Regions from separate parts of the Homo sapiens genome. Here all the other regions are linked to region 2. Evidence: fine-mapped expression QTL. A gene starts in region 2. Each other region holds a variant in brackets. All regions are shown on one strand. Distances are between the middles of the regions.

What was found.
Region 1: its variant is fine-mapped to the expression of SNX30 in whole blood (INTERVAL, PIP above 0.99).
Region 3: its variant is fine-mapped to the expression of SNX30 in neutrophils (BLUEPRINT, PIP 0.95). The same link has a PIP of 0.9 or more in monocytes.
Region 4: its variant is fine-mapped to the expression of SNX30 in whole blood (TOPMed, PIP 0.98).

The regions. Positions count from the first base shown.
Region 1 is chr9:112,871,444-112,879,606 of GRCh38, forward strand. SNX30 (sorting nexin family member 30) reads left to right here. Exons shown (of 9, transcript NM_001012994.2): 9 at 1-3,544. SLC46A2 (solute carrier family 46 member 2) reads right to left here. Exons shown (of 4, transcript NM_033051.4): 4 at 7,477-8,163. Among named protein-coding and RNA genes, the nearest start is that of SLC46A2, 15 kb to the right of the region's middle. The variant AC/A (reference allele first, on the strand shown) is at 5,702.
Region 2 is chr9:112,747,402-112,755,564 of GRCh38, forward strand. SNX30 (sorting nexin family member 30) reads left to right here and starts at 3,359. Exons shown (of 9, transcript NM_001012994.2): 1 at 3,359-3,756. The coding sequence starts at 3,601. It overlaps SNX30-DT (SNX30 divergent transcript), which reads right to left and starts at 3,164. Exons shown (of 1, transcript NR_186503.1): 1 at 1,483-3,164. RefSeq lists a silencer at 3,117-3,936 and enhancers at 3,206-4,127, 4,128-5,047, 7,178-7,792, 7,251-7,340, 7,793-8,163.
Region 3 is chr9:112,858,761-112,866,923 of GRCh38, forward strand. SNX30 (sorting nexin family member 30) reads left to right here. Exons shown (of 9, transcript NM_001012994.2): 8 at 5,487-5,639. Among named protein-coding and RNA genes, the nearest start is that of SLC46A2, 28 kb to the right of the region's middle. RefSeq lists an enhancer at 7,955-8,163. The variant G/A (reference allele first, on the strand shown) is at 3,983.
Region 4 is chr9:112,904,467-112,912,629 of GRCh38, forward strand. No RefSeq gene overlaps it. Among named protein-coding and RNA genes, the nearest start is that of SLC46A2, 18 kb to the left of the region's middle. The variant A/G (reference allele first, on the strand shown) is at 3,006.

The DNA.
Region 1 (8,163 bases), 120 kb after region 2:
TAGAAGTGTCACACGGAGGCTTCTGTGCCAAAGACTGCCTTGTAGAGGTCTCATCACCTCACACTTCTTGACTTCACAAAATTGTGGCCCTGAGATCAGTACTCCTCTCTTAAGTATTTATTATTATTATTATTTACTTTACCTCAAGCAGACAGACATAGGTTTTGAGGCTTGAATACATGGCAGTGGAATACAAGGCCCTCCCTAGCAGCCGCCCCAGGCCTGGAAAGTGGGAGATTTCATTCGCCCGGGTTAAAAATCCAGAGGAAGACAGAAGAGAGGAGTCCTAGGAACTGAGCAGATTTTAGAGACGCAAATGATGTTTAAGAGAGCCTTGTGATTTGTAGCAAGCATGGGCACTGCTTTTTCTTACTAATGTGGTAGATCTACACGAACATTCTAGGCTGTTCTGCTCAGAGCGAGGAACCACTGCTCCTCAATGGGGAGGGAACATACCACCCAGCCAGGCTTAGCATTGGGTTTTATCCTTTAATAAAAGTTTTATAATGAATCCTGTTCACCTTAAAGTGTGATTATGGAGATGATTGGCTCCATATTCCACCACGTCATTCCTTCAACTCACCAGACACCTTTCTTTAGTTGAAATAAACCAGCATGACCTGGAGATCATGGTGACTGTAAGCTAAGTCTGTTTTCATGCCAGATTTCAGCCCCACCCAGAGTGTGCTCTAGATGTTGTTGATTTGAATGGTTTTCCCAGTTCCCACTCCACATGGGGAAGTTGAATGAATGCACACCTGCTGCTCACTTCTTGTGAGGCTGCCTTTTGTGATCAAATAACAGGAAGTTCTGCTTTAGAGGAGGGCACGATGACCATGTGGCAGTCTGCAAGTGGAATTTTGGGATGGCAGCCCGAGGAACATCCAGAGTTACTGTGTGACTTGGTCCTGCCATCGTTAGCTTTGAAATCACAGGCATTGGGCTCTGTTTTGACACCATTCATTGGACTGCGGGACAGTCATTCTTTACGTTCTCTCTTGAGCTGGTGAGAGAGGAGGAAGAGGGAAGTCAAGAGCAACCTCCAAGGCCTATGTCAGCCTCTTCTCCTTGGGTCTTGGGGTGGGTTAGAACTGGGTTCCAGTCTGGCCAGATGGGTTGCTGGCTGCACTGAGGGTGATTCTTCTCAGAAGATGGGCTGCCTGTGGTCAGGACAGGGCATACCAGTCTGGACTCCACCTTCCCAGACACCTACTTTAAGGACCTGTGGAAACTGGGTGATCCAATTATAGGGCTGGGGCAACCCTGCTTTGGCCACCCTCATTTACAAACTTAGGTTGGGAGCTTGGGTTTCCTGTCTCACTTCCAAAAGCCTTCAAGATGGCAGCAGATGGACACACCCTCTCATTTCTTGTGTCTTGTCTGTCAGATGGCAGGAGGCCTGTATCAGTAAATTTGAGGAAAATGTTCTCTCCTGGGCCAGCCTCACAGCTTGCGTTGGGTGTGTTGGAATTGTTCTCTTCGGCCTTGTTCTGCCTTGTGATCTTTTCAATTCAGTGAATAAACCAGGAATCCATTTTTTCACCAACCCACCCTGTAGATTGTCAGCTTTTTGTTTGAGAGATGCCTGGTCTCACAGTTACATGTATCAGAGTGTGTGTAAGTTGTCTGTGTTAGAAAGGTTGGGGTGGGGGCTTTGTTGCAGGGGATTAGACTGTTCTTTCTTCATCATAATTTGAGATACATCCTGAGTATGACTGTCTAACCCTTTCTGTGTGGCAGAAAAATATGTTTTCCAGGTAGTTTTTACTACTACAGAGAGTCTGTAAATAAGTGCTTTAAAAAAATAACAAACCAATAAGATATTTGTCTCCTATATAAACATTCTGTGTATTTAGCACTTGAAAATCAACAAATCCAGAATTTAAAAAAATGCCACAGACTTTTCAAAGCCCAACTCTACTTTTTTGAGAATTTGTCCGTACCTACTAATATGCCTTATTCTTCTTCACCTAGTGTTTTAAAAGTCCTGGGTAGAAAGAGTTTTAGAAATGTAATCAGTTGTTCAGCTTCAATAATATAGAGATCTAACATAGTCAGTCCTCAGGCCCCCTAAAGAAACAAGCAAGAAAGTGAGGGCCATCACTAGGGTTGGCTTTGGGGAGGGGAAAACTAAGGACTGCTTTTGCCAAATGATATTTTTGATAATGTAAGGAAACACAGGGACCACAAAACCTTTTTTTTTTTTTTAAGTGTGAAAGATTAGTGCCTTTTGGCATACTTTTGATTTTAGAGGATATAGTATCGGCATTGACAAATCACGTAGAAACAAAGAATGCTATAGATGACAACAGTATTAAATGTTACTCCTGATTCTGCAGAACAGCTTTTGAAGATACTGGGGGGTATCTTCAAGCCTCAGAGCAGCTTGTTTCAGATAGAAATTCTCTATGGGTTGAAATGCCAAAAACAGAAAACATGATGTTGACTCATGTAATTTAGTCCATTTTAGCAGAGCCTTTAGTGTTAACACCAGTGGCGAGGAGCATTGCATATTCTCTGTCAGCAGCAGCACTCCCACACCAGGTGGTTCTGGGCTCTCTGTAGGCTGGTCCTAGTAGGTGACACCCAGCAACACCCCTGTTGGACAGGATTGATTGTTCGCAGTCTTAGACCAACACTTCAGTCAGAAATGTTACTGGGAGGAGGAAAGGAAAATCACTTTTTTTCCTCCATGTGGAAATGAGGAGAGAGGAAAGTGGATTGCAAACCAAAATGTGAGTCAGTGTGATGAAGCAGTGGCTCTGTCATCTCGGCCTTTATCCAATAACAAACCAGCATCTCTTAAAGGCGCTTTTGGCCTAGACACCCCTGAAGTTTGGATGAAGTCTGGTGGATTCCCTGTCTGTTGTATTTCTGTGTGCCTGTTCCCTTCATTGCTGTGAGTTGGGAGTGCATTGAGAGATGATGTCCATCTGATATATTCCTGTGAAATAAACTGCCAGCAAACTTTCTAACTTGTATTTTAACTGTTAAAGAAGAGATTAAAAACTTCGGCTTTGGACATGTCCACATTATGGACTGTCATCTTATTTTTAAAAGTCATTCTTTACGTTTAAAATTTTAAAATAAAAACCTTCTGAGGTATTGATGTAGTCCACCGTGTAAATGTTACCTTCTCTCCATGCTGCCATTATGCCAAAACAAAAGCTGTGATAAAAAAAGTGCTTGAGAGAGTGTGTTGATAAGAAAGTGATTTATTTACAGATGGAAGTCTTTGTTTCATGAAGCTACCAAACTTTAAAAAGAATGTCACCCTTTTTTTTGTTTGTTATGGAAACCAGAGATTGTAAAATGGAAAAAGAATCGTTTTTTTGTTGACTTTTTGATGCTGGCACGAGGTTTTTGTCCACTTTTTTCATATATCTGTGTATAAAAAAATTGTTGTTTACTATGGAATTAGTATTACATTTTGAGGTAAACAAAAGAATTTGTATTGCTTGATAAATATTAGCTTGTAAATTTAAAGTTTCTTTACTTCAATTAACTTAAAGGACCAATAAACCCATAAAAGATGCTTTCTTTATCTGGAGTCATGTCCTCATTTGTACCTTTTTGTAAGGCAGAAAAACATGTGTGCCTATTTTTCTGTTTTCTTATTTTCTCTTTACAAGTTTTCAGTTTGCCTGTAAGAATCAAGACATACAGAGCGACAGGAAAAAATATATATAATTGAACTATTTTTATTCTTCTTCACTTCTTTATAGGCCCAGTTTACCCTCAATTTACCCTCTTCTACATCTTCCACATCTGCACCAATCTGGGGAGATGAAGAAACTTCCTAGTGTAGTAGCCATCATGACTGGCAGGCAGGCCGACAGCCAGCTGAGGTATTTACTACATGAAAGATTTCCTGTGTTATCCCATAGCAAAGCACAACATTATATTCTGCATCAGGGCCAGTTAAGTTGACCTGATGATGGTAATGCATTGAACTTGAGTATATTTAAAATAGTGCTCAACTTGACTTACTTTAAGACTGCAGTCATACAAAATAAGGCAGCAAGCTGAATAAGACGTGGATCATGGATCAAATCTCAGCTTTTCCACTTACTAGCTATGTGGCTTTAGGCAAGTCACACTTGGCTGAATATTTAGTATTACGATCTTTGAGATGAAAACAAGACTTCCACATGGGGTTGTCGATAGGACTAGCAATATGGTATGCAAAGCACTTAAATGTCAGGCAGCTTCTCACTGTGATAGCCCCTTTCTAAAGACTTCCTAATTTAAATATTAAGGCTATTAGGATATTATCCTTAAGGATATGGCCAATTTAAATATTAAGGATAACAATCCTTCATGTATGCTTTGCCAGTTTTTTTGTTTAACAGGATATTCTTTTTTTTTTCTTTTGCTTTGTCACCCAGGCTGAAGTGCAGTGGCATGATCTCAGCTCACTGCAACCTCTGCCTTCCAGGCCCAAGCAGTCCCCCCGCCTCAGTCTCCCGAGTAGCTGGTGCTACAGGTACGTGCCACCATGCCCGGCTAATTTTTTTATTTTTCGCAGAGACGGGGTTTTGCCATGTTGCCCAGGCTGGTATTGAACTCCTGAGCTCAAGCAATTCGCTTGCCTTGGCCTCCCAAAGTGCTGGGATTACAGGCATAAGCCACTGTGCCTGGCCCTGTTTTCTTTTTAACAAGGTGATGGAAATAAAATACTGAAGGACGGTGTCAGATTGAAGGCCTGAAGAATGGGGAGGAATAAATTCCAAAAGCCATGGCAAGAAGTGATAAAGGGAGGTGAAAATAGCCGATTTAAGAGATTCTTGGGGGGAGGAGAATGGACCGGAGATGACTGGAAGATTGCCAGCCTGGGATTTGGAGGCGATGCCATTAGCTAAAATTAGGAGAGAAAGACAGAATATGGAGGCTGGGCGTGGTGGCTCATTCCTGTAATCCCAGCACTTTGGGAGGCCACAGCAGGAGATCACTTGAGCCCAAGAGTTAAAGACCAGCCTGAGCAACGTAGACCCCGTCTCTACAAAAATTAAAAATCAAAAAAGATGGAATGAGCTTAGGTGGTGGGGTGTGAGAAGGAGAACTTGGTTTCGCTTTAGGTTTGAGGAAATCCAGGTGGAGATGTTGACTTGGCTGTTGGAAATGAAGTTCTGGAGTCCATGGGGGTGGACTAGATTGCATGGGAAGAGAACCAAGGACAGGACCTTGGAGGCCTCAAGAATTAAGAATACAGGCAGGGTGCAATGGCTCATACCTGTAATCCCAGCACTTTGGGAGGTCGAGGCAGGTGGATCATTTGAAGCCAGGAGTTCGAGACCGGCCTAGCCAACATGGCGAAACCTGTCTCTATCAAAAATACAAAAATTAGCCAGACATGGTGGTGCGTGCTTGTATTCCCAGCTGCTCAGGTGGCTGAGGCAGGAGAATTGCTTGAACTCTGGAGGTGGAGGTTGCAGTGAGCTGCGATTGCACCACTGCACTACAGCCTGGGCAAAAGAGTAAGACTGTCAAAAAAAAAAAAAAAGGATGCAGGGAGACAAGGAGGACTCAGGGAAAATTCTTGAGAAAAAATCGGGCCCCATAGGTGAGAATGGTGATTCTTAAATGAGGGCTTGTGAGACACCAATTGTTGAGCCCCAGTCCTAGAGTTTGACTTGGGTGAGATCCCAGAATTTTCATTTCTAACCGGTTCCCAGGTGATGCTGCTGCTGCTGGCCCAAGA[AC/A]CCCTGGGTTAGAACATCTGTTAGAAGAAATGGTGACCCTGGAAAAGCTGACAAGGTTTGAAACTCCTACCCTGGTGACAGCTGGAGTTGAAAAGGAGCCAATACTTGGGCTTTGAGAGCTCAGCTCAGGTTAAAAAACACAAGTTTATATAGCACGGTCAATGTGGACAAGGAATGACATTTCTCTAAACAGTAAGAGGCTTTTCAGGAGTAGGAACGATTAGATTCATTCAGGCTGAGGAGCTGGTCAAGAGGCTGGACCAGAAGGTAAGGAGTTGGGGAATGAGCATATTGATGAGTAAGGGTGGAGAGGTTGAACATGGTCTTGACCTCATCTTTCCCATCCTATCTGCTCTGCTCATGCTGCCAGACTCTTGGGGTTGGAGGGGGGCGCTACCTTTTTCCCAGTGGCCTGAGCCCCAAATCTGAGTCATTCTGGCCTCCATCTACCTCACCCTCTACCATCCATCCATTAACCAACTCCTGTAGCCTCTAACTCCCAAATATTTTTCCATATCCATCTACTTTTCTCCATGCTTGTAGCTTCCTACCCTACGTCTGCTATTATTTTTTTACTTTAATTTTTTTTTTTAAGAGGCAATCTTGCTCTCTCACCCAGGCAGGGGTATAGTGGCCCAGTCATAGCTCACTGCAGCCTTGAACTCGGGCTCAAGCGATCCTGTCGTTTTAGCCTCCTGAGTAGCTGGGATTATAGGTGCACACCACCATACCCAGGTAATTTTAATTTTTTTTGTAGAGATAGTGGTCTCGCTATTTGCTCAGGCTAGTGCTGGATTCCTGGCCTCAAGTGATCTTCCTAGCTTGGCCTCCCAGAGTGCTGGGATTATAGGCCTGAGCCACCAAGGCTGGCCAGTCAGTCTGCCATTATCCTTCACCTGGTTTACTGCAAGGGCTTCACAGCTCATCTCCTTTCTTCAAGCTTGCTCACTCCTTCCACCAATTCATTGTCCTCAGTGTTGCCAGGGAGCTGTTTCTAAGATGCAAATTTAAGCACTCTGTGTTCCTGCTTAACACCTTCCAACAGCTATCCCCATTTACTCTGAAGAGAAACATCTTTTTCTTTTGAAAGGATATTTTATGTTATTCCTCCTTACCACCCCAGTCTCATCTTACTGTCCTCCGTAATACTTGTCCTTCCGTCTGCTGCCTTCACACTGAATTCCTAAACCTTTGATATATTTTCACCTTCAGGCCTTCCAGCAAGTTGTTCCTTCTGCCTGGAATGTCCCCCAACATCTGGCCTTAGTAACTGCTACTTACCCTTCCAGCCTTGTCATAGAAGTCATTTCTGGGATGCCCTTCCTGCTCTCCCAAATCTGGATTCCGTGCTCCCTTATATTAGTGAGGTTGGAGAGGTTGAACGTGATCTTGAACTTCTTGAACTCATCTTTCCCATCCCATCTGCTCTGCTCATGTTGCCTGACTCAGTGCAAGGGTGCTGGCTCCTTCCCAGTGGAAGGAGACATCCCTATCTGCTGTTCTGTCTGCTTCACCTGATAGACAGTACACTGTGCTAGGGCAGACACAGTCACGTGCTATTCTTTCTGTATCTCAGCACCTAGCATGGGGCCTGGACCTTATTAGATGTGTCATAGAGTTTTGTTCATTCCCTGCAAGAGGATTAGAGATACAAACTCTCAGAGCCCAAATACCTTGAATGTATTCTGCAGCCGTGTATTTTATCCTGTATAAGAACATCAAGTCTGTAGTCACAGACAGAATCTGACCTGGGAAGGAACGATTCACACACTCATACAATGAATGTTGATTTTATTAGGTGAGTCTGCTTTTATAAATCCAAGTAAACAAGGTTATAAAAATGACTACCTCAAATAAAATAGCTCTTAATGTACCTCCTCTTCCTTCACACCACCCACTTTGGGAAGCACTGTTGACTGGAAGTACTCAATTGAACATCCCATTGAAGAAAGCCTTGTGACATTTGCTTCTTAAAAGCAACAGTAGTAACAAAACTACCCAGAAGACAAGGGCCTGAGCTCCATCCCCCTCCTGAGTGTTTGTAGGTAAGGAAGACTCAGGAAAGAAAGCTGACTTTTTTCAAGGTTTTATTTTAATTTAAAAGACATTGTTCGTGCAAAACTGTTGGTAGTTCTTACAAAACATCCCTTCCACATTCCCCTCAGGCTGTGATAATGCACGCTTTGAGTTCTCCCATGGGACTTTCAGCACAGCACCCAGGTGACTAGTTAGCTATACTTTGGAGCCCTCAAGACAGTCCCTTGAAGAAAAGGGGCAGGCTCGCTGTAGCTGGAGTCTGAAGCCCCTCACAGGGCCTGGGACTGCTGTGTGCAGCCTGCCTGTAACCCTTAAGGTCATGCTCTGCTGTCACAGAACCCAGTGTCTGCCTAATGGGGGTGTCTTAAAGCTGAGAACGTTTTTCCATCACCAGGAAAGTGCTTTTCCCCATCCACCAGGGATC
Region 2 (8,163 bases):
GAAAGAATGAGCGAATGATGCATTGAGACTGCTTTGTTTCTGAGGTCTGGGTGCTCACAGGCAGCCCCAATACGCTTGCTAGTGAGGTCGATAGGATTTGTTTGGTAAGCGTACTAAATTCTGGGGCCCAAAGCCCTGTCTCCTGAAAGGTGCCAGCCTAAGTGTCTAAGATTCCTTATGAATTGGGAGGGCTCCATGCTGTGTTCTTGGGTTCTGGTGGCATTGGGGACCTCCCTCGCCCCTCATGCACACACATACATCTACTATCTTCCTCAGAGCTCAACCCTAGAAATCCAAGCTTCCCTCCATAAGTTCCAACAAACACCACAGCCTTCTGCTCTGATGGAGAAACGTTACACGTTTCCTCCTTACCACCATGCTGCTTTTAAAACTTTTAGTAGCCTGTAATCCCAGCACTTTGGGAGGCCAAGGCAGGCAGATCACTTGAGGTCATGAGTTTGAGACCAGCCTGGACAACATGGTGAAACCCTGTCTCTACTAAAAATACAAAAATTAGCCGGGCATGGTGGCACACACCTGTAATCCCAGCTACTGTGGAGGCTGAGGCAGGAGAATCGCTTGAACCTGGGAGGCGGAGGTTGCAGTGAGCTGAGATTGCGCCACTGCACTCCAGCCTGGGCGACAGAGCAAGGCCCTGTCTCCAAGAAAAAAAAAAAAAAAAAACAAAACCTTTTAGTAGAAGCAAAGTCACATGCTCTGGGACACTTATATTATTTCAGTGACAATTTCCCACCACAAGGAACACTGAAATACCACAGGAAATGGTGAATATGAATGGGCAGGGCTGGGCTAAATTTCATCGTGGAAACTTTCTACCAAAATACTTTCCATACAAATTCACTTTCTTTAGTTTTGATGACTACCCACTGGATATTGTGGCCAGCTGCTATCGACCAACCAGGAAACTGGAAAATAAATAAATAAACTGTAATCAACTATTTCATATGGCCTTTTAGGAACTCTGGGTCTGGGTCCTTTTTTTGGTGGGAGCATAGAAAAGTGGTACTCCAATCTAAACTGAGCAAATGGAGGACTTTGGAGGTCAATACACACACACACACACACACACACATATACACACATATATATGTACACACACATATATATGTATATATATATATATTTTTTTTTATTTTGAGACAAGGTCTCCTTCTGTTGCCCAGGCTGAAGTACAGTGGTGCAATCTCAGCTCATTGCACCCTCAACCTCCCAGGCTCAAGCAATCCTTCCACCTCAGCCTCTTGGGTAGCTGGGACTACAGGTATGTGCCACCATGCCGGACTAATTTTTACATTTTTTATAGAGATGGGGCTCTCACTATGTTGCCCAAGCTGGTCTTGAACTTATGGGCTCAAGTGATCCTCCCACCTTGGCCTCCCAAAGTGCTGGGATTACAGGTGTGAGGCACCCTACCTGGTGTGTATGTGTGTGTATATATATGTATATTCAACCAGACCCTACTCAGAATAGTAAAGCATATTTAATTACAAAAACTCTTTATTATTTCATAAGAATAGTAGAGAAAATCTGACAGAAAGGGAAAGGAAGGTAGGTAATTAACATTTAGGGAGCACCTATTTTATGCCAGCACTTTGCTAGGACTATGACATAAAGAATGCTATATAACTCTCACAACCATCTCATAAGGTATTATTACCTGCTCTCCATTCTCCTCCTTTTTAGGTTAGGAACAGGTTCACTGAGGTTAGTAACTTGCTCATGGTCACCCACTTGTAGTGACAAAGCCGAATTCAAATGTGGTTCTTTTTTCACTTTCCCCTGGTGTACTAAAGAGAAAGCTTGTATAGAGTCTTAATCCATACGGATGTCCATTATATTTAAGGCAGCCTGGTTGTTAAAATAAGTAGCACCATTCAATAAGAAAAACCGATGTTATACATCTATAGATGTATATACTCATTTCTAGAAATACTCATTTCTAGTTATATTGTGCTATTCATTTTCATGCTAATTCAGAAGAACAGATAATAGGGTCTGTAGTAGTTGTAAGCAGCCCTTGAATGTGAAAGTGTTAACAATTTTAATCCAACTCCAAGAGGACCAGAACTTGGCATTCCTTAGATGCAGCATTTAAAATTGTTCCCAGTGCCCTTTGAATGCTACTTTTCCCAGCCAAGGCAGGCTTATGTGGAGGAGATAAAGATGATAGCTTGAGGACTAAGGGTCCAACCCTATATAAATTACATTGGGGGAAATAGGGGAAGGTCTTTGAAGCTCAGAGTCTCTGACTGATATTTTGGGTAGATTTCAACCCTCTGCATTCTCTTCTATTTGTTTCTAGAGAAAACTGTGGTAGAGGCCTTAGTGAATCCCAGAGTCAACATCTGTCATCACCTTTTAGCAGGTAAGGCTAGGCAAACCTTTGAGTTTGGAATGGGTAGGGAAAATGTGGTCCCTCACGATGAGCCTCCCTACCCATTACTTTGCTAGAGGGACTGAAAACCCTTTAAAGACTTGGCCTTGGAAACAGAAGATCTAGGGACAGGTAAGGTGGAAAAAGGAGGTGAACCTACACCCCAAAGGGCTGGAAGTAACACCTTGACTATTTGCACCACGCCAGCAAATAAAGCTGAGAATCAGCTCAGCCCAAGGCCTGGAAAGGAAGCACAAATGCATGAAGAATAACTTGAACCTCATGGTTCTTTCAAAAGTCTCTTCGGCCAAAGTGTGAGTTGAAGAGTCGCATATCATTTGAGACTCTCTACTCATGCTCGCTGTTCTGAGGTTTGACTTTACACAAATCCAGCTCAGCTGCAGAAGCAAGCCACAATGGGGACCTCAGAGTGAGCCTGAAGACTCCCCACACCGCCTCTTTGAAGTCCCTTCCAGGTTCCCCACCCGATGTCCTCTAGCTCATTTGAGCCTTGTCGCCCTTTATGCTATTCTTCCGATATGGGTCGTAATTCCGTCTATCTAGGGTTCTTCCTGCGCGTGCCTTAGAGGCCAGAAGACCCTGACTCACGTGCGTGTCCTCAAAGCCCCCAGCCCCAAGCGTGGCTGCTGGTGGGCGCATCAGTAAACGCGGGTGGAACGGAACAGGCTCCTCCAACCTCTTTTCCACCTCTGATTTCCGTTAGACATTTGCTCCGCACGGCGGCCTCCGCGAGGCAACGTTGGACACTGGGAGGACAGCCGCAGAGGCCCAGGGCGCACTTCCTGCCGGGCGGGGGCGGGGCCGCGCCTCCTCCCTCCCTCCCTCCGTCCTTCCTTCCCCACGTGCCCCTTCCCCGCCCTCCCCGCCCCCTCCCGGGCGGCCGCGGCGCCTCGGGGGCGGGGCCGGAGCGGGTGGGCGGTGTGGCTGTGTGGGCTGGGCGCCGCGGCCGTGCTGCCAGCGGACCCGCGGCGGGCTCGGGCGCGGAGCGGGGGCGCGCGGCGCGGAGCGGAGCGTCTGAGCGCCGGCAGAGACCAGCCGGCGGGTGGCGGCGGCCCCCAGCACGGCCGGTGCAAGGCCTCGGGTTAAGCGGCGGCCGAGCGGGGCTCGGCCCGGGGTGCTCGGGGAGCTCGCCGCGGCGGGCAGCAGGAGGAAGCGGCGGCGGCGCGTCCCGAGCGGTGCGCGCCATGGCGGGCGGGCCCCCCAAGGCCCTGCCGTCCACGGGGCCCCACTCCCTGCGCGACATGCCGCACCCGCTGGCCGGCTCCAGCAGCGAGGAGGCCGTGGGTGGTGACAGCACGCCCAGCCCGGACCTGCTGATGGCCCGCAGCTTCGGTGACAAGGTGGGGCGCCTGGGGCCGGGGAGTGGGAGGCTTATTTCGCTCCCCGTGGGGGGGATGATGGATCCGGAGCCTTCGTGGGCCTGGGGCCGCGCCCACCCTGCCGCCCCTTCCCGGGGGACGGGCGTGTCCTGGCCCCGGAGCCCTCGGCGAAGCGTCTCCTCTGCCGCCTCCGCGGGGTCGCAGCCGCAGAGGGACAGGCTTCGCTGCCTGTGACTGGTCGCAAGCACCGGTGACAGCTGGTGGGGAGGGGTCCAGCCTGCGTGTTGGAGCGGGAGGCGTGTGTTCAGGGCAGGGCGCCTGTGTCCTCGGATGGGGTTCCGAGTTCCTCCAGGTGCATCCCTGCAGGCTGAGCTGCTGCATAACTTGTAGCTCCTCCAGTTTCCGAGACTGCACAGAAAGCAGGAGTTCCTGGCTTTCCGTGCTGGGACCGGGCAGCCCTGGGCTTACAGCGAGAGTCTTCTTCCCCCTAGTCAGTCATGTGGGGAGTGATCTTTGTTTAGGTTTGCTGTTTGTCCTGAGGAGTCACCTGACTCAGACCCCAGCCGGCGGCGGGAGGAGAGCCTCGTTGTGGTTTTCTGTCTGGGGCTCCATTCACCTCCGACGGCCTACCACTCTGTTTAGGTTTGGCAGAGGCTGGTTTTGTGGTTGATGGAAAGAAAGCTCGCCCTTTGACCTTCTTTGTACGGAGGGAGGCTCCAGATTTTCTTAGAGCAGCACAACCCTCCTGCTGCTTGGAGAGACAGCAGAGTCCAGGCAGGGGTAAGGGACGACCTCCTCCCTACCCCCATGGCCATTTCAGCTGTGAAGGAGACTTGAGCAGTGATTGTATCCCCGCTCCTGCCGTCACTTAGTCACTAACTGCAGAAATTAGAATTGTTCTCAGGTCTTGTGATCAAGATTTTCTCTCCCTAGTAAAATACTAAATGAATTCCCCCTTGTCCCAATATTAATGGGAGCAGGGGACCTAACTTTCTTCTCCCGTTAGAGGGGACACCATGTGGTACAGTGAAAAAGGAGTATGAGAAAATATAACCTGCCCTCCTTGCAGTCAGAAGGTCACTGAGCACTTAAAATCACTAGAGAGTGCGACTTGATGTACCTTCTGCAGAGGGTTTGTGAAAGCAGGGAGTGAAGTTCCAAAGCATTAGGAACAGGAAAATTAAAAAAGCTAATGGAGGCCAGGTGCAGTGGCTCACACCTGTAATACCAGCACTTTGGGAGGCTGAAGTGGGATGATTGCTCTGAACCAAAAGTTTGAGACCAGCCTGGGCAACATATCGAGACCCCGTTTCCACATACGCACACAGCATGGTGGCATGCACCTGTAATCCAGGCTACTCAGGAGGCTGAGGCGGGAGGATTGCTTGAGCCTGGGAGTTCAAGGCTGCAGTGAGCTATGATTGCACCGCTGTACTCCAGCCTGGGCAAGAGAGTGAGACCCTGTCTCCAAAAAATGTTGAATAACTGAATAAATTTGCTTTCTTATCGACAAAAATTGGTCTTAAAATAGTGTAGGAACTGGGGGTTAAACCTCATTTCCTTCTCAGTTCTGTGTGGGACACTGAATTAATTATCTATTGCTGTGTAGCAAATTACCCCAAAACTTATCACCTGGAAATAGTGTCTGTGGGACAATCTGAGTGGTTCTGAATTAGGCCTTTCTTGAGGTTGCAGTCAAGTTGTTGGCTTGGGCTGCAGTCATCTGAAGGCTGGATTAGGGGAGGATCCACTTCTAAGCTCACTCACATGGCTGTTGGCAGGTCTTAGTTACTCTCCATAGGGCTGTTTGATGTGGCAACTGGTTTTTCCCCCCAGAGCAAGTGATCCAAGAGAGCTCAAGACTCTAGCCAGTCTTGTATAACTTATCTTGGAAATGACATGCCTCTGCTGTATTCTGTTGGTCACACAGATTGACACTGGTACAATGTGGGGAGAGGGTGTGAATATCAGGGTGTGTATACCAAGAGGTGGGGATCATTGGGCCATCTTGGAGACTGGCTACTACAGATAGCCATTTAAAATATTTACCTAACGATTCACTCATGGATGATACCTGACTCAGAAGTATGAGCATTTTACTAATAAGCACTTGGAAGACAAATTCCCCGTACCACCAAGATCTGGTTAGTGGTGAAGAAGTCAGTCTCAAGTCTAATTACCGATGGCTTCCTTTAAAGGGTCTGTTCTGTGTAGGAGGGAGAGTCTTGAAGGCATTATTAATTATTGAATATATATGTATTTTTTTGAGCAGAGACTTACTCTGTCACCCAGGCTGGAGCGCAGTGGCCTGATCCTGACTCACTGCAACCTCCACCTCCCTGGTCAAAGTGATTCTCGTGTCTCAGCTCCCGTATAGCTGTGATTACAGGCGTGTGCTACCTTGACCAGGTAATTTGTGTATTTTTAGTAGAGACGAGGTTTCGCCATGTTGGCCAGGCTAGTCTCGAACTCCTGGCTTCAAGTGATCTGCCCTCCTCGGCCTCCCAAAGTGCTGGGATTACAAACATGAGCCACTGTGCCTGGCCTAATTATTGAATATTTAATGAATCTCCTAACAGCTGTGGGGAGCATCTAAATGACACCATTCTCAAGGGCCTGATTTATAGTAAGCCACTTTTCCTTAGAGGCTAAGCATTGTAATTTCTTTCTCTGACTAGGAGTAACATTTTCCTTGAATCTTGGCATACACGTATGGTCTCATAACTCTGAAGAAATTTCTGTAGAGAGAAGCTAGCAAGCCACAGAGGTGAGTCAGAGCCAGAAGAAGGAAGCCTTCCCTGTGGCTGGCTTTCTCCTACCTCAGCAGCATGAGGGTCATCAGAGGGGTGTTAGGACAGTTCAGTGCTATGGTCTGTCTTTGAAAAGAAGCCAGTTTTGTCTTGTTAGATACTGGGGTTGTGATCCTGGATGACAGGGATTCTGCGTCAGTTCTGGGCCAGGGGAATGAAGGTTTGACAGGCTGGTCATAGTACAGGGTTATTATGCAAAGGGGAATTGCTTTCTGAGGGCCCAAGATGGTGCGATGAACAGGGTAGCCTGGTGTCTTGGTCCAGCTGACGCTTGTGAATGAACTCTGTAGTGCTTGGGTAGAAGAGAAAGACTGAATATGATGGACTCTCCACCAATTTCTCAAATTGTTCAAATCATGGTGTGATGCCTCCCTTCATAGGCTCCCAAAGGAGGAATCCTTTCTATCTACCAGAGGTTGCCAGGACTAATTCTTTTGATGCCTGCTAAACTCACTGGGCCTTTTTTTTTTTTTTTTTTTTTTGAGATGGAGTCTCACTCTGTTGCCTAGGCTAGAGTGCAGTGGTGCAGTCTCACTGCAACCTTTCCCTCCTGGGTTCATGTGATTCTCCTGCCTCAGCCTCCTGAGTAGCTGAGATTACAGGTGACTGCCACCACACCTGGCTAATTTTTTTATTTTTAGTAGTGATGGGGTTTTACCATGTTAGCCTGGCTGGTCTCGAACTTCTGACCTCAGATGATCTGCCCACCTCTGCCTCCCAAAGTTCTGGGATTACAGGCGTGAGCCTCACTGGACCTTATATGGCTATCTCCATCTAAAATGTAAATACATCACTTAGCCTTACTCTCCTTTTTTAACTTTCATCTGTAAATTGCTCCAGGCTGCTTCTCCTCTGACTCAGCCTCTAACTTCTGTACCCCTCCCAAAACTTAATACTGGATTCTTAAGCCCCATTGTGTGGCTAACACCTCCTCCCACATCCTCAATCTCTTCTCTGAACTCTTCATCTACTTCCTGCCTCCTTAGGTCACTTAGACGTCCTCTGAAGTCTTCAAAATAGAGAAGGCTTTTCCTCCATCACCTTTTACAAACCAGGCTCTGCTCCTTTGAGGCTCCTGTCATTCTTTTTGTTCATTTGATACATATTTGAGGGCCTACTATGAGCCAGGCACTGTTCTAGGAACTTGAATAAATTAGCTGAAAACCCTGCCCTCACTGGATACATTTCAGCAAGTTTGTACTGTATTACACCATAAATGCCATGGAAGGAGGAAAAAGGAGAACTGGCCGCGAGGAAGAGGATTTGGCAGGCCTTGTTGAGTACTTGATATTTGAGCAGACTGGAAGGAGGTGAGGGAGTTAGTGGGTGAGTATCTGAAGAAGACTGTCCGGGGAGGGACTGCCTGAAGCAGAGGCCGGAAGGCACAGGGCTGGTGTGTCGGGGAGCAGCCTAGAGGCCAGTGTGGCCAGGTAGAGTGAGCATTGGAGAGTTAAAGGCTGGGGGCAGAGAAGGGAGGGGTCAGATTATATTGAATGTGGCCGGTCACCCTGAGGACTTTGGCCTTTATTGCTAGGGCCATGGGGTGGGAAGTTAACATGGGCAGGGGACATTTCAGGGTCTTGAGCAGGAGGGGGGCATAGTTTGATTATATATTGAA
Region 3 (8,163 bases), 110 kb after region 2:
TCTCTCTGATTCACCACCTCCTCTTTCTGTGCCCGCCTTTCTGCCTTCCCGAGTGACTTTTGCTGAGTCCTTTATTAACCCTACACATGCTGGCTTCTCTGTGAGTTCAAACCTTGGGCCCTGCCTCCCTCAGCCCCACCTTTCCCTCCATATATTTAAACAAGATTATACTGTGGTAAAATATACAGAATATAAAATTTGCCATCTTAACCATTTAAAAGTGTACAGCTTAGTCGTGTTAAGCACATTTACATTGTTGTGCAATCGATATCTGGAACTCTTTTCATCTTGCAGAACTGAAACTCTGACCCATTAAACAACTCTCCATTCCCCCTCCTGCCGGCCTCTAGAAACCCCTGTTCTACTTTCTGTCTCTATGACTTTGACCATTCTAGATACCTCGTATCTAGAATAATATAATATTTATCCTGTGACTGGCTTATTTCACTCAGTGTAATGTCCTTGGTTTATCCATGTTGTAATGTGTTAGAATTCCCTTCCTTTTTGAGGCTGAATAATATCCCATATATATGGGACATACACACACATACATACATACACATACATATACATACCACATTTTGTTTATCCATTCATCAGTGGACATCTGTGTTGCTTTCATCTTTGGGCTACTGTGAATAATGCTGCTATAAACATGTGTATACAAGTATCTCTGAGACCCTGCTTTCAATTTCTTTGGATATGTACTCAGAAGTGGAATCCAGCAGGATCATATAGTAGTTCTATTTTAAAATTTTTGAGGAATCTCCATACTGTTTTCCATAGCAGCTATACTGTTTTACAATCCACCAACAATGTACAAGGGTTCTAGTTTCCCTATGTTCTTACCAACGCTTATCTATTTTTTTGAGACAGAGTCTTTCTCTGTCGCCCAGGCTAGAGTGCAGTGGCGTGATCTTGGCTCACTGCAATCTCCGCCTCCCGGAGACCAGCCAGGCTGGTCTCGAACTCCTGACCTCAGGTGATCCACTTGCCTTGGCCTCCTGAAGTGCTGGGATTACAGGTGTGAGCCGCTGCACCTGGCCTATTTTCTGTTTTTGTTATTTTTTTTAATAGTAGCCATCCTGATGAGTGTGAGGTGCTATCTCACTGTGGCTTTGATTAGCATTTCACTAGTGATTATGATGTTGAGCATCTTTTCATGTCCTTGTTGACTGTTTATCTTCTTTATTTTTATTTTTTTGAGATGGAGTCTCGCTCTGTCGCCAGGCTGGAGTGCAGTGGCGTGATCTCGGCTCACTGCAACCTCCACCTCCCTGGATCAAGCAATTCTCCTGCCTCAGCCTCCTAAGTAGTTGAGACTACAGGAGCACACCACCATGCCCAGCTAATTTTATTGTATTTTCAGTACAGACAGGGTTTCACCGTGTTGGCCAGGGTGGTCTCGATCTCTTGACCTTGTGATCTGCCCGCCTCAGGCTCCCAAAGTGCTGGGATTACAGGCGTGAGCCACTGCGCCCAGCTGACTGTTTATCTTCTTTGGAGATACGTTTAAGTCCTTTGCTCATTTTTAAATTTGGTTGTGTATTCTTTTCCATAAGCCTTTATAAAAGAGCTGTGTTTGGTTTTCTTGTTATCTCACCCCGCTTTGTGGAGGGAGGCATCACTCTTCCCCTGGCTGCAACTCCCTCCTTTCTGTGATCTGTGGACCTGTCCTTCATTCTGAGCCTTTGGTGGCATTAGTGCCACCCTAGTCATCCAGACTAGAAACTTCAGGCTTCTCTCGGACTCCCTGTATTTTATTTCTCATGGGCAGCCAGTTGCCAAATCTGTCAGTTCTGTCTCCACCAGGTTGGTTTACTCCATCCTCTCCCTTCTGGTGTTAGAGCCACAACCCCAGTTCCAGGATGCCCAGTGCAATCTCATGCTAATATGTAGTTTGGAGATGATTCATCTCTGGTGTCTAATGAAATCTCAGGGTGGAGTAGCATTGGCAAAGGGTGGCATAATGTTTGGGAGAACATATAATAATATAGTTTGTATTTGGAAGATGAAAACCTGTTTTATAACACATGGAATAAAGCTTGAGGAGCTGTGCAAGGGATAGATTATCTTTTGTGAACAGCAAATTATAATATTGATACTGATATGAGCTAACAAATGTTTATTGAGCACTTACTATATGCCAGGCACAAGTGTGTCACAGGTGTGCAATGACTCTCTGGAACCAGTGTTGCAGGGGTAAGAAGAATTTACCAAGACAATTATAGGTAAAGAAAAACAGATTTATTAGAAAAAGTAGGAAAATACATTGCAAGAGTGCAACAGGCAGATCAGCAGGAAGGGAGCTGACTGCCCAGAAACAAAGGCTTGCTGGGGATTTCATAGAATGGTGCTCGTGCTGTGTACTGAAGAGGGCTTCATGCAGTGCTGATAACTCCAAGGTCGCAGTGAGCAAACTTGCATTTTTCTATTAACTGAGGGTCTGGTGATAGCTGGGTGCAGGAAGATTGTGTTATTAATATTTGTGCAGGAAGGCTATGTGTCCTGGACCATGAAGAAAAGCAGAAGTATAGCTTAATCTGCCTTCTCTTTTTGCTTTCCCTTGGTCCTGTCAGCCCAACTCCCCCTTCCTAATTAGGACGCTGTAAAGCACTTAACACATATTAGCCTGTCTGGCCTCATGACAGCCTAGTGAGGCGGAGGATATTATTAGCCAGACAGAGAAGCTGAGGCCAGGTCCCAGGCCACACACCTGGTAAGTGGCAGGTGGGGTGTGCAAGCTAAGCTCTGGAAGTTTGGTTCTAGAGCTGTCCACTGCAGCTGGAGGAAGTGTGGGGCTTTTTCTATTCTCCAAGAGTGGGCATGAGTTAACTGGGCCTCAGGAAAGCAGGACTTTGGGACGAGCCTCAGGTTCCTCATCCCCTGCCACCCTCTGCCAGTCTTGCGAGCTGCAGTTCCCTCTCCGTGCCGCTGTGGGCCCTGTGGCCTGTGCACAATTCCTGCGGTGGGTCCTGGTGTCTTCTCTCCTCTGTCCCTTGTGTGTACCGCCACTCTGGAGTGCCTTCCAAGTGGTCAAACATCTCACATCTGTCATCTTTAAAGAGCCGCCTCAGTGCTGTTTCCTCCATGAGGCCCGATCTTCCCAGGTTGGCCGCCCCCTCCATCCTCCTCAGCGTGCTTATCACGGGGGCTGCAGGGGAAGCGACAACACTTACGATATCTTGCCTCAGTGTCTAGGCATGTTCCTGTTTCTTCCCAACTAGACTGTAGGTTACGGGAGACAAGATTTGTCTGTTGAGACCCAAGCACTTTTGTATTCCTCAGTGCCAAGCACAGAATGTGTTGTGAAACTGAGAAGCCAAATATTTCCCAGACCGAGGCTCAGGCAGTCCTAAAACCCACAGCCGTGGTTTAGACCCTGATTTTTCTGGGTCAGTCAGAGTTCCCATCTCCAGAACACACCTGGGAATCTTTAAACCTGGGAATCTTTCCTCTGTGAACAGTCCTGATTCAGAGACCCTGGCTGCCCTCCTCTCCACGTGTCCTGGTGAGGTTCTCTTTCCAGGGCTTTCCATTTTCTCCTCACAGCAGAAGTTTCGTTAAGCAAACAGGAAGTTGCTCATAGGCACCCTCACCCCAATGCAAGTGTGAGCAGTGGCCAGGAGACGGGTAAGGGAACTGGCCTGTGCCTGTGGGGAGGTGAGGCCAGCCAGAGACACTGGCTCGCTGGGCATCTTTCCATTGAGGCTGATTCCTGGAGTGACTCTGGAGAGGCAAGACTGGGATACTCTGGTTTTTATTTCAGTTTTTCCTGAGGTAACCAATAGTAATGGGTGGTCTTGGGAGGAGGCAAAAGAGACTTAAATCATGGCATCAGAAGAAAAAGTCAGTCTCTGACCTGGTATGGTGGCTCAAACCTGTAATTCCAGTGCTTTGGGGGACCGAGGTGGGAGGATCACTGGAGGCCAGGAGTTCGAGACCAGCCTGGACAACATAGCGCCACCACATCCTACTTATT[G/A]TAGAGATGGGGGTCTTACTATGTTGCCCAGGCTGGTCTCAAATTCCTGACCTCCAGTGATCTTCTGCCTTGGCCTCCCAAAGTGCTGGGAGGCATGAACCACTGCACTCAGCCCAGTATTTTTTTTTTCCCTCTTCCAGAAGCTTATGTGCTTTGAAGAAGGCCTCTTTCCCCATCTTAACAGAAAAATTCCTTGCTTTTAAATTTCCAGAGTGTCTAGTTATCTCTCTCTCCAGCTCATCCTGGTTTCACCCATGTCTAGTTCCCGTGTCAGGCACATTCAAATTCACTTGCCTTGGCCATGTCTCTTCCCTGACTCCTGTGTTCTACAACCATCTCCACGTGGTCTGTGGAGAAGATGGCTGAGTACCCTGAAGGTGTCCAGCTCCCTCAGGCCTGTCTTTCTCATTGGCATCATTCTGGGTCAGCTCCTTGTCCACGAGGCTTGGGTATAAACCTCCTCGATTGGTGGAAGTGGACTCCCAGGGGTGAGCCATGGCTTGGAGACAGTTTGGTTCATGGGCCCCAGCACACCAAACATAAAAGGCCTCACTTGTGGTTGGGATACATTTGGCAGGTCGGGGGTTTGACCTGGCTTTGGGCCTGTCGGCTCCCTGGCCGCCATCAGGGCTCAGTGAAGTGCTTGAGTTAGGAGAGAGAAGCCAGCTTTGGGAAGCGCTGCAGCCACAAAGCCCAAACTCCAGCTGCACAGGATGGTGAAATTCACCAAAGCAAAGTGAAAGTTGTGAAACTTCAAGTGACATAGTTCCCTTTTGAGAAAGTCTTCTAAACCTCTTTAAGAAAAACTTGAAATAGCCTGCTGTATATTTCTTCTTTGAATTTCAAATTTTTTTGACATGCATAAGTAACTTTCCTCCTGTTTTCTCAGACTTCTCTAACTCTCCATTTAAAAGTATCTGCTATTGGGAAAAGCATAAACAAGCCTCCAGTTTATTTATGATGTGGGGTTCAGAGGAGGCAGCTGGCCAGTAGTTGTCTTATTGCAATTCTCTGATTAATGAGGAAAGGCATCATCAAATGTCACAGCAATGGAATAGTTCATGTGATCTGGGAGAACCTACCTCTTCTCTAGTTCCAATATGGGACACAGGAGAATAGCAGGGCAATACAAATGCTGTATATTTGCAAAGTCTGCACACACTTTCAAGTGTGGATGAGTAAATCCTAAAAGGAACCAAAGACATATGAGTCTGAATTGCAATGTTTCTTCTTCCTGTGTGTAAATGGGGGTGTTTCCCCCACGAGTCTCTGTTGTGTTTGGATGGGTTTGAAGATCTGGGTTAGGAGAGCCCCTTTTCAGAGCTCCTCCTTAGACCTGAAAACCCAAGGTTTTGCTTTCAAATAAATGCCTCCAGAGGAGGGAGCGTGTTGATAGCATTTTAATGTAGGGCTTTGGCCTTTGACAAATGTGTGCTCAGAGGAGCTCAAGGCAAGAGATGCCAGTTTTGTGTGCAGGGCACCCATGTGTGCCTCCCTTTTCCAGGTACCGGCGGACGTCGAGAAATGTCAGGATCGGATGGAGTGTTTCAATGCTGACCTGAAAGCTGACATGGAGAGGTGGCAGAACAACAAGAGGCAGGACTTCCGGCAGCTACTCATGGGGATGGCTGACAAGAACATCCAGTATTATGAGAAGGTAATGAGTGTGCCCAACAAGACTGGTTTCTAATGGCCAGAGCCTTTCACATGGGCCTACCAGAAATCCACAAGCTGGGAATCCTGCTAGTCTCATCTCCTTCCCTTATTTTAGCTGCTTAGTCTTGGCTCCCGCTTCATGCCCTTGCCCAACCATGTGGCTGCAGTGCTGGGTTTGGCAGCAGAGGGGGTGCTCACAGGGGTTTCCCTTGCACATGCTGCTGGGGAAGCAGCCCATTCGTCTTCCATGCTTTCTGGGCCTGGCACTGGTTGCTTCCCAGAGCCAGTCAGACCTTCAGCACAGTGATGCTGCCACCGAATGGAGGCTTTGGGGTTACTTTACTCTGTGTTGGGGTTCTGTACACAGGGTCCCTTCAGTTTGGTTGTGCAGTGAACCCCTTTGGTCATCTGGTGAAGCCTATAGACCCCTCACCAAAATACTGTGCATTTGTTTTTTAAATAGACTTCAAAATATTGATTTTAAATACGTAAAATAAAGGGATGTAGGATTACAAAGGAAAGCAATTCTATTAAAAACTTTTACTCATGGATCCCCTTGACCAGGTTAAGCAGCGCACGCACATGCGCGTGCACACACACACACACCCACACACCCCACTACCACCACCACACCCCACACACACACTACACACACACCACACCCCCCCACACTACACACACACCACACATACACCACACACCCCCCATACTACATGCACACCACACACCCCCTACACATACACCCCACATACACACCCCACACACAACCCCCCCACACACGACACCCACACACCACACCCACATACCTCACACAACCCTCACACACAACCCCCACACACACCATACACACACCACACACACATAGAGATGACTCTTATCAGGCTACAGCCCAGTCCCCTCAATCAAGGTTTGCTTGATTCGTATGTCCAGCAAACCAGTGCGAGGCCAGGTGCAGTGGCTCACGCCCGTAATCCCAGCACTTGAAGAGTCCGAGGTGGGAGGATCACTTGAGCCCAGCTCAAGACCAGCCTAGGCAATGTAGTGGGACTGTCGTTACAAAAGATACAAAATGAGCCAGGTGTGGTGGCGTGTGCCTATAGTTCCAGCTACTCGGGAGGCTGTGGCAGGAGGATGGCTTGAGCCAGGAGTTCAAGGCTACAGTGAGTCATGATTGTGCACTACTGTACTCCAACCTGGGTAACAGAGTTTTTTGATCCTGTCACGCCATATATATATATATATATATATATATATATATATATATGTATGTATGTATGCACACACACACACACGTATACACACATATATATACACACATATACATACATACATACACACATGAGTGAGTGTGTGTGTGTGTGTATGTATGTATGTATGTATATATATATATATATTGCGATAGGGTCAAAAACTCTGTTACCCAGGTTGGAGTGCAGTAGTGCAGTCTGTTACCCAGAGTTCCTTTCTTCTGTAACTCCCACACCTTCCCTCTGCTGTTCAGCGGCCTTCCTACTACTACAAAACCAACTATGTCAAATGTCTCTGTTGCTCCCTTTGGTAATTAATCCCAGCGTTCCTAAAGTCCTGGTCCCAGGAGGACCCAACCCTGGTCTTAAGTACGTGTTTATCTGTCTTCCCACTATATCACAGGCAGGGCCACTGTCTTGGGGCCTGGTATTGCTTCTATACATATTTAACAAATGCTTTTTGTGCACTTGCTGTGTGCAAGGGGCAGTGTGTACCAAATTGATAAACAGCAGGATTCCTGCCCTGTGGAGGGTATGTGTTCATCAAAGGAGCCCACAGCTTCAGAGTGAGATAAGGAAAAGAACGGGAAACTGGGGGAGAAAATACTAGGGGGCATAATGCAGACTAAGGGTGGGAGGGGCAAGTGGAGTGGTCAGGAAAGGCCAGTCTGAGGAAATGACATTTCATCCGAGTCTCAGAGACAGAGGCTTGGAAAACATATATTCCAGGTATAGGAGACAACATACGCAAAGTCCCTGGGGCAGGAAAGAGTTTGGTACATTTGAGGACCAAATAGAAAACTGGTATGGCCTTGGTTTATCATGGCTGACATACAAAGTCCATTGCAGATCTGAAGTGATGGCCTAGGGAGAGAGCAGGACCTGGAATGCCACAGACCCCAGATCATCTTCCGTATATAAGGTGGGCTTCAGAGTTTAGCTTCCTCTCTAACCTCAGAGTCACCAAGGAGGAATCAGGAAGCAATTTCACCACTCTTCTTTCTGGCTTGACCTAGGATGCCTCTCTCCTCCTCCCTCCTCAGAACTTCTCCCACCTCCTGGGAATTCCTCCCACCTCCTCAGAACTCCTCCCACATCCTCAGAACTCCTCCTGCCTCCTCAGAACTCCTCCTACCTCCTCAGAATTCCTCCCCCTCCTCAGAACTCCCCCCATTAGAATTCCTCCCACCTCCTCAGAACTCCTCCCACCTCCTCAGAACTCCTCCCACCTCCTCAGAACTCCTCCTCCCTCCTCAGAATTCCTCCTGCCTCCTCAGA
Region 4 (8,163 bases), 160 kb after region 2:
CAGTCCTCAACCCTTTCTAGCTGTGGCCTCAGTTTTGCTGTAGAGGTAGAGGATAGGGCTCAATCTCTCACTCTTTCACTGCCTCTGAGTACTGAGATACTGGAACACCTATTCTGTGCTGAGAAAAGGGATCAGACACTGGAGCCCCTCAGTTCAGGAGTCTGTCACTGACCCCAACTGGAGCCAACAATCTCTTCCATATCCAACATGAACTCTTGGCCAGGTGCGGTGGCTCACACCTGTAATCCCAGCACTTTGGGAGGCCACGGTGGGAGGATCACTTGAGCCCAGGGGTTTGAGATTAGCCTGGGCAATACAGTGAGACCCTGTCTCTACAAGAACTAAAAACTAAAAAAAAAAAAAACCCCAATGCATGATGTCTTGTCTCAGAAGAGGAAGAGCTACCATTTCTGTGAGGGGTAAGGGACTGCTGGTCAGATAGGGCAACTGCGTGCCACCGTGGCTGCCAGGAAAAGAATAGTGGTGTCTCTCTCTCTCTCTCTGTGTGTGTGTGTATGTGTGTGTGTGTAGGAGTGACAAAAATGTTGAATCTAGGGTTGAAAAAGAGAGTACAGGTGGTTCTCAGGGCCTTAGGATTCCTGCACGTTGAGGAGCGGGACTCCAGAGCCCTGTAGATTGGGGACTGGGAGGCAATTGGTGCTAAAAGTAGGCCCAGGGTGTAGGTGCACAGACTAGAATCTGCATGGTCACATTGTGAGGAGGTCGTTTGTTCCATTGCTTCCTGAGGAGCTGCCCAGGGTGAAACACATCTGAGGCTCAGGGAAAGCACGGGCTGTGTGAACTGCGAATGACCTTTGCATTCCTATCCTGCAGAGTTTGTTGCAAGTGCTCTGTGGGGCTAATGGGTACTTTCTCCACAGGCCAGTCGCCCAGCATTTCATAGTCTTAAAATCATCTGATTAGAGTTGACTATGCCTATTAAAGACTTTTATATGCATGTTTCAGCTCATGGGAACAAAGCTGATAGCAAGGCTGAGATTAGGAAGTGGGAAGCTGGTTATTCACCCCTTTTGCCCCATAAGTCACCCTATGTGCACATAGGGGCTCCCACCCCTTCCTGCCCTACAACAACAGTATGTTTTTTGTTCTACTACCTCACCTACTTAACTTGTTCTGCAAAAATAAAAATAAATTGAGTGACAATCAACCTATACAACATTAAGGGCTAATACAATTTTAAAGTTTAAAACAATCGACTGGGCACGGTGGCTCACGTCTGTAATTCTAGCACTTTGGGAGGCCGAGGCGGGTGGATCACTTGAGGTCAGGAGCTCGAGACCAGCCTCACCAACATGGTGAAACCTCGTCTCTACTAAGAATACAAAAATTAGCCGGGCATGGTGGTGGGTACCTATAATTCCAGCTACTCAGGAGGCTGAGGCAGGAGAATTGCTTGAACTTGAAAGGCAGAGGTTGTAGTGAGCCAAGATCATGCCACTGCACTCCAGCCTGGGTGACAAAACAGACTTTGTCTCAAATAAATAAATAAATAAATAAATATATATTTAAAAAATCATTAAGAATAAGACAAATATTCCCAGCTTTAAGAAATGGGTGCCTAGGTTGGGCTCCCCAAAAAGCAGACTTAAGAGAAAGATTCGTGGTCAGAAGGTTTATTGTGTAGTGCTTGAAACCACCTTTGCAAGAATTATAACTGAGGAAATTATGACAGTGAGAGAGATCAGATCTAACCGACTCCATCCTGCTTCTAACCTTTAATCCGTCCTTGTTCATTCCTGTGTGTAGGTCGAACTAGCCTTGGGAAGGAATTCAGTTTATGGTTTGACTCTGAAACAAAATTGATAATAGCCCTTTCCTGAAAAAGATCCCTGTCTTGCCTGGGGACCAGACTGCCTTTGTAGGACTAACAAATTAGCTACAAATTAGAAATTAAGGTTTAGAGGTCATGAGGCCTCTGCCTGCAAGAGTCTGAACCTCTCCCAGTTGTTCCTCGGGATAACATCATTATTGTAAAACCTAAGATCAGGGCTTGAGATATTTTGCGGACCCTGCACTCAATGATCAGCTGACACCACCCAGACTGGTAATCTGGCTCAGCTAGTTCTGTGATCCCACCCAGGAGCAGAAGACACAGCAAGAAAACTTCATTTTGACCCCCATGAGTCCATCTTCAACCTGACCAATCACAGCTCCTTACTTCCTGAGCCCCTACCCACCAAATTATCTTTAAAAACCTCGATCTCCAAATGTGAATGCTCAGGGAGACTGATTTGAGTAATAATAAAACACCAGTCTCCTGCACAGCTGACTCTGCGTGAACTACTCTCTATCCATTGCAATTCCCCTGTCTCGATAAATCAGCTCTGTCTAGGCAGCGGGCAAGGTGAACTCACTGGGCTATAACATGCTCTGGGGATCAACACCCAGGAGGATGAGGGAAGTGGCATCTGTCAGAGGGAGGTGTTGACTTGTGATGTAGTTGCAACAAAGGCCTCCACGAATTTGGGAGCTGACAGGATCCTTCAATGTTGCCCCACCTTGAGGCCAGGGGGCCACGCCTTTATACTCCCCACCATACAACATTGATCAGCCATTAGGTTCAGGCTGCCCTGGAGAGAGAGGGGCATGATTTTGGGCTAGGCAGCTCTCTTCTGCTGAATCCAGTTCCCAGAGAGTGACTCAGCTGAGATCTTTCAGCCACTGACAGTGAGAGAATGAATGCATCAGCTGTGAAAGGGGGGTCCGGATAGTGCTTCACAGCATCCAGTACAAAGGCCAAGTGACAAGAAGAGATAAACCAAATAGGAAGAAATCATTTTAACAGTGAGAATGTGAAACAAATGTTCAAAATTGTTAGTATTATGTGAAAAATTAAAGAATAGATCGCTCTTAGCCTATCAGACTCAGGATTTTTTAAAAAAGAGATTGGCCATGGATAGAGAAAATGATAACCTTTATGCTTTTAGATCCTGGGGTGGTAAAATGTGATTAATTTAAGGTTTAAAATACTAGTAGTCAATGCC[A/G]TGAGAATAAATTTCATCACTCGGAAAGAGTGTAGGTAAAGAACCAAATAATGTCATTAGCTCAGAGGAAAATTACTATGAGATACATAGTACAAGGGTATTTGTAGAAAGCTCAATACCATTGTGCCAGGAAGCTTTTCCCCATGGGAATTGGCAGAATTTACTTTACAGCCTGGTTCTAGAGTCCACAGGATGGGCAAGGACATTTGGGTGAAAATTCCTAAATACAGAGTAAGGAAATTGGCTGTTTAGACTACTAGGGAGATGCTTGGAAGGCATAATAGTAGTGATGTATTTAATTGTGAGGTAAGGTATGCAGTGACCAATTATCTTTGATATCCATCAATGACAAAAGCTGGAGAATATCTCTGACTTTTGGGGTTAAACTATAACTTATGCCAGAGAGAGAACTAATATTAAACTACCCAAATCCCAAATCCCATGAAGGAGAACAGTAGAGGATATTGTGCCTATTGGAGAAAGGCTATTCCATCTATAGCAGAGAACTGTATAGTTGGGCCTCTGTATCCATGGGTTCCACATCCATGGATTCAATCAACCACCCATTGAATAAAAATATCCAGGAAAAATAACCATATAACCACAAAAATAATACAAATAAAAAACAATGCAGCACAACAACTATTCACGTAGCATTTACATTGTATTAGGTATTAAGTAATCTGGAGATGATTTAAAGCATACTGGAGGATTATACACAAATACTACATCATTTTATGTCAGGTGCTTGAGCATTCACAGATTCTGATATCTGTGGGATTCTGGGAACCAATCCTGCACCTATATGGAGGGATGACTGTACACTATTCAGAAAGCAGTTTCTCCACCATCCTTGTTGGGTCCTGGTGAATATGAAGCAAGTGAGCAAGAGACATCAGATGATCATGCAACCAGAACTATCCATTATGAGAAGTTTTCTTTCAGACTACCACATCATAAGTTTGGGTGGGCCCAGCAGCAATCTATAAGATGGAAGTGGTACACCAGTGGGATAGGGCACATGTAGGGTCAGAAGGAACAAGCAAGCCACAAAAGCAGGTGGTCCAGATCTCATGTTGTCCAGTGCTTCTCCTTCAGCACCAGCCACATGGGGAACCTCTTATGACAGCTGATGGAGGGGAAGAAAAGGTTGAAACTTGGTTCACAAATGGGTCAACTCGATATCTCAGTACAAACCAGAGGACAGTAGCTGCATCACAACCCTTACTTAGGTATTGATATGCTTTGGATGTTTGTCTCTTGCAAATCTCATATTGAAATGTGATTCACAGTATTGGAGGTAGGGCCTGGTGGGAGCTGATTGGATTATGGGAGTGGATCCCTCATGAGTAAGGTTTGGCACTATCCCCTTGGTGATAAGTGATATTTTGCCCAGTTAATCCACATGATGTCTGGTTGTTTGAAAGAGTTTGGGACCTCTGCCGTCTTTCTCTCTTGCTCCTTCTTGCCATGTGATATGCTGGCTCCCCCTTGACCTTCCACCATGATTGTAAGCTTCCTGAGGCGTCACCAGAAGCAGATGCCAGCACCATGCTTTCTGTACTGTGAGCCAATTAAACCTCTTTTCTTTATAAATTACCCAGTCTTAGATATTTCTTTATATCAACACAAAAACAGACGGACATAGGTGTGGTACTAAAAGCTAGCAGTGAGAAATCCTACCAATGGGGAAATCTCTAGCAGGTATGTCTGGTCATGTAAGTTCCCCAAGGTATGAATATACATGGTTTCACGAGTAGTAGCAAATGGTCTGCTGGGGGGTTTGGAAGGAGATAGATTGAAAGATCAGGGTTAAGGAGCTCTGAGGAGGAGGCATGTGGGCAAACTTATGGGAGGTGTGAAGATCTTTGTTTCACATGTGCATTAGCCCACTGGAGTATCTGTTATAGAAGAGGCATTATCCAACAAATACAGACCAAGTGACTCAGCCAGTTGACATCATTTGGCTTCTGTTATTAGATACCTGGGTGTTGGAATAATGAGTGCATTTATAGAGTAGCCACAGTGGTAGGGATGGAGACTCTGCATGGACCTGACAGCTGATCTGGCTGTTGCTTCTGCTCAAAGTCCAGCCTATCAGCCCCAGAGACCAGTACTGAAACCCTGATATAGCCTCATCCCCTAGGAAACTAAGCTGCCATTTGGTGGCTATTTGATTGCATTGGATCCCTTGCACAATAGAAGGAGTAGATACCATCCTGACCAGGCTCAACTTATATTCTGTGTATCGGGTTGTCTTTCCTGTTGTGGGGCCTCAGCCAGTACCATGATCTGAGACCGAACGGCGTGTTGGATAACAGCAAAATATCAGAGCTAAGCATTCTACTTCACAGCAAAAAAGTATATAGTGGACACCTGGCCATGGGACCCACTTCTTCTATCTCAAACTTTGTCACCCAGAAGCCACCCTATTAGAGTGGCAGAATGGCCTTTATGAAACCAGTCAAGATCTCAATTTAGAATTAACACCCTATAAGGATGGGGTACCATCCCCCAGGAGACCCTAAATCAATAACCATTGCATGGTGCTGTTTTCTGTCTCCAAAAGGTAGACTACATGAGCCTGGAAACTGGGGGATGGAAGTAGGCCTGGCCCCACTTCTCATCTCTCTCAGTGATCTTGGGAAATTTGTGCTTTCCATTCCTGCAGCTTTAGCACTAAAAGGGGCTGCCTCCACCAGGGGAGACAGTAAGAATCCCACTGCAATTTAAGCTATGGCTGTCGCTGGGGCGCTTCCAGTTCCATGTGTCAAAAGAACAGCAGTAAGAAAGGGAATGCAGGGGCAATTAAGGTCACTGCTACTCAAGGGGGACAGGAAGAATATGTTTGGACCCCACCATGAAGCACATCTTGGTGTTCCCACACCCAGTGGTAACGGTAGTTGGAGAATTGGAGCAGCCACAGTCTGAGAAAGGCATAGTAAATCAAGGCTCAGACACTTAGGGATGAATGGTTTGGGTCACCTCACCAGGTAAGCCGCCTAGACCAGCAGAGGTACTAGCCAAAAATGAGGGGAAGACAGGATTGTAAATGGTGGAGGGGATGATGAATATCATTTATGGTGTCAGGATAGCTGCGGCAGTAGAGGCTATAGTTCATCCTACTAATCTTTCTCTTGTAAGTTTCCCAGCAAACAAGCCAACCAGAATTACGGGAAAGTCGTTCCCAAAGGGATATCAGAGAAATATGAGAGGTGAGCTGCAGTGGAAATTGTGGTATTCACTCATGTGCCCCCTTCAGGGCCAATGTACCTAATTCTCAACTTCTGGTAATATCATACTGCCAGCCCACAGCTGAGAATATGAGAATCTCCCTGGACTGGAAACCTGTAGGAAATATTGAGAAAACTTTGAATTTCCATAAACTGTAGGATAGGAGTTTAAACCAGTGTTCTCTAGAACTTGGGAGAGAACCCACCTGATGACTGGATTATACCAGTGCAGAATTGATCTGCCTGGGAAGTTTGAAAATGGAGATTGACTTCAAATTTCTGGGCTTGAAAAGAGAATATGAGTATTCAAAGCAAAAGTTTGTAACACTTGAGCATATCTGATGAAAACTATATTGTCCTGGTGAGGGCTGCAAGGTTGAAAGGGCAGTGATCCCAGGTCTGGATAATGTAGCCAATATTTCTTTGGTGATTTCTGAGGTCAGAATTGTCTCCTGGGAGAAAAACGAGATACAGACTATCAAGAAGCTGATACAAATCAGGAATATGAAGTTCCTTTCAAGTGCTGCTGGGCCTTATGTTCATACTAACGCTCTGTTCTCTGCTAATGATTTTATAGCAGCTGCTTCCTAGCTATTCCTCTTCGAAAACACTGTGGGTGGGAGTAAATGGCATGCCTGAAGTGTCTATGGAAAATAGCCTGTTAATGGGGATATTATCTGTCCCTGAGCTCAGAGGTGCAAAAGAGACAGAGAAGACCTTTCTTTGCATCTCCTGGGGTGACAGGGAGGCATCAAAGTCATATCTTATAGGCTTTATCCTCTTGCATCAAAATAACAAGATCTCATACTCAGGAGAGAACTCGTTTGGAATGCTGTGTCCTTGAGGTTTCTTGGAGTGGTCATTTCTGACTGTGTGACGCTTTTGACAACTATGGATGGAGGGTGTATCTGTCTTGTGACCAGCCGCCCTCTTGATGTCCACATTGGAGTATTTCCAGAAGAAAACCTGGGCAATGACACCTTCCTTCCAGGCCAGTTTTGAACCCAGCTTATGCTCTGTAAAGGACTTTATGACATTGCTCTTATTCCCATTCTTCACACAGAAATATGCTTGATGTTTGAACCAGTCAGGTATTTGAAATATGTTTGAGATGTGACTTAATGTGACCAGAAAAGTCTAAATGTATTTAGGAAAGAGGCCACAGAATTGCTAAGTCTAATTTTGTCATGCAAATCATGTGCACACAAAACTTTTTAATGCAATATTTGAGAAAACACTACCCTTAGGTAACTGGCATGACTTCATCTGCTGTGGTATGTACAAATTCTTTCATTCGTTCCCTCATTTAATGAGGACTTGTTGGACACCTGCTTGTGAAAGACACCTGTGATGTCAGGGAGACAGTCCTCAAGACCACGCTAGCTTCTGACACTTGCAATTTGGGAGGATTCCCAAGACCACCCTCAGGTTTGATAATTCACTTGGTGGACTCACAGAACACACACTGAAAGCTGTTATACTCACAGCTATGGTTTATTACAGCACAAGGATACAGATTAAAATCAGCCAAGGGAAGAGATGCATAGGGCAGAGTCAGGAAGTTTCCTAGAGCAGAAGCTGTAGTGTCCTCTCTCAGTGGACTTGTGGATAACACTTTCCCGGCAACAATGTATGACAACATGCACAGAGTATTGTCAACCAGGGATGCTCACATGAGCCTTGGTGTCCAGAGTTTTTTGTTTTTTCTTTTGAGACAGGGTCTCATTCTGTTGCCCAGGCTGGAGTGCAGTGACACTATCGTGGCTTACTATAGCCTTGACCTTTCTGGGCTCAGGTGATCCTCCTACTTCAGCCTACCAAGTAGCTGGGACTACAGGCATGCACCATTATGCATGGCTAATTTTTGTATTTTTTGTAGAAAAAGGGTTTTGCAATGTTGCCAAGGCTGGTCTGTAACTCCTGGG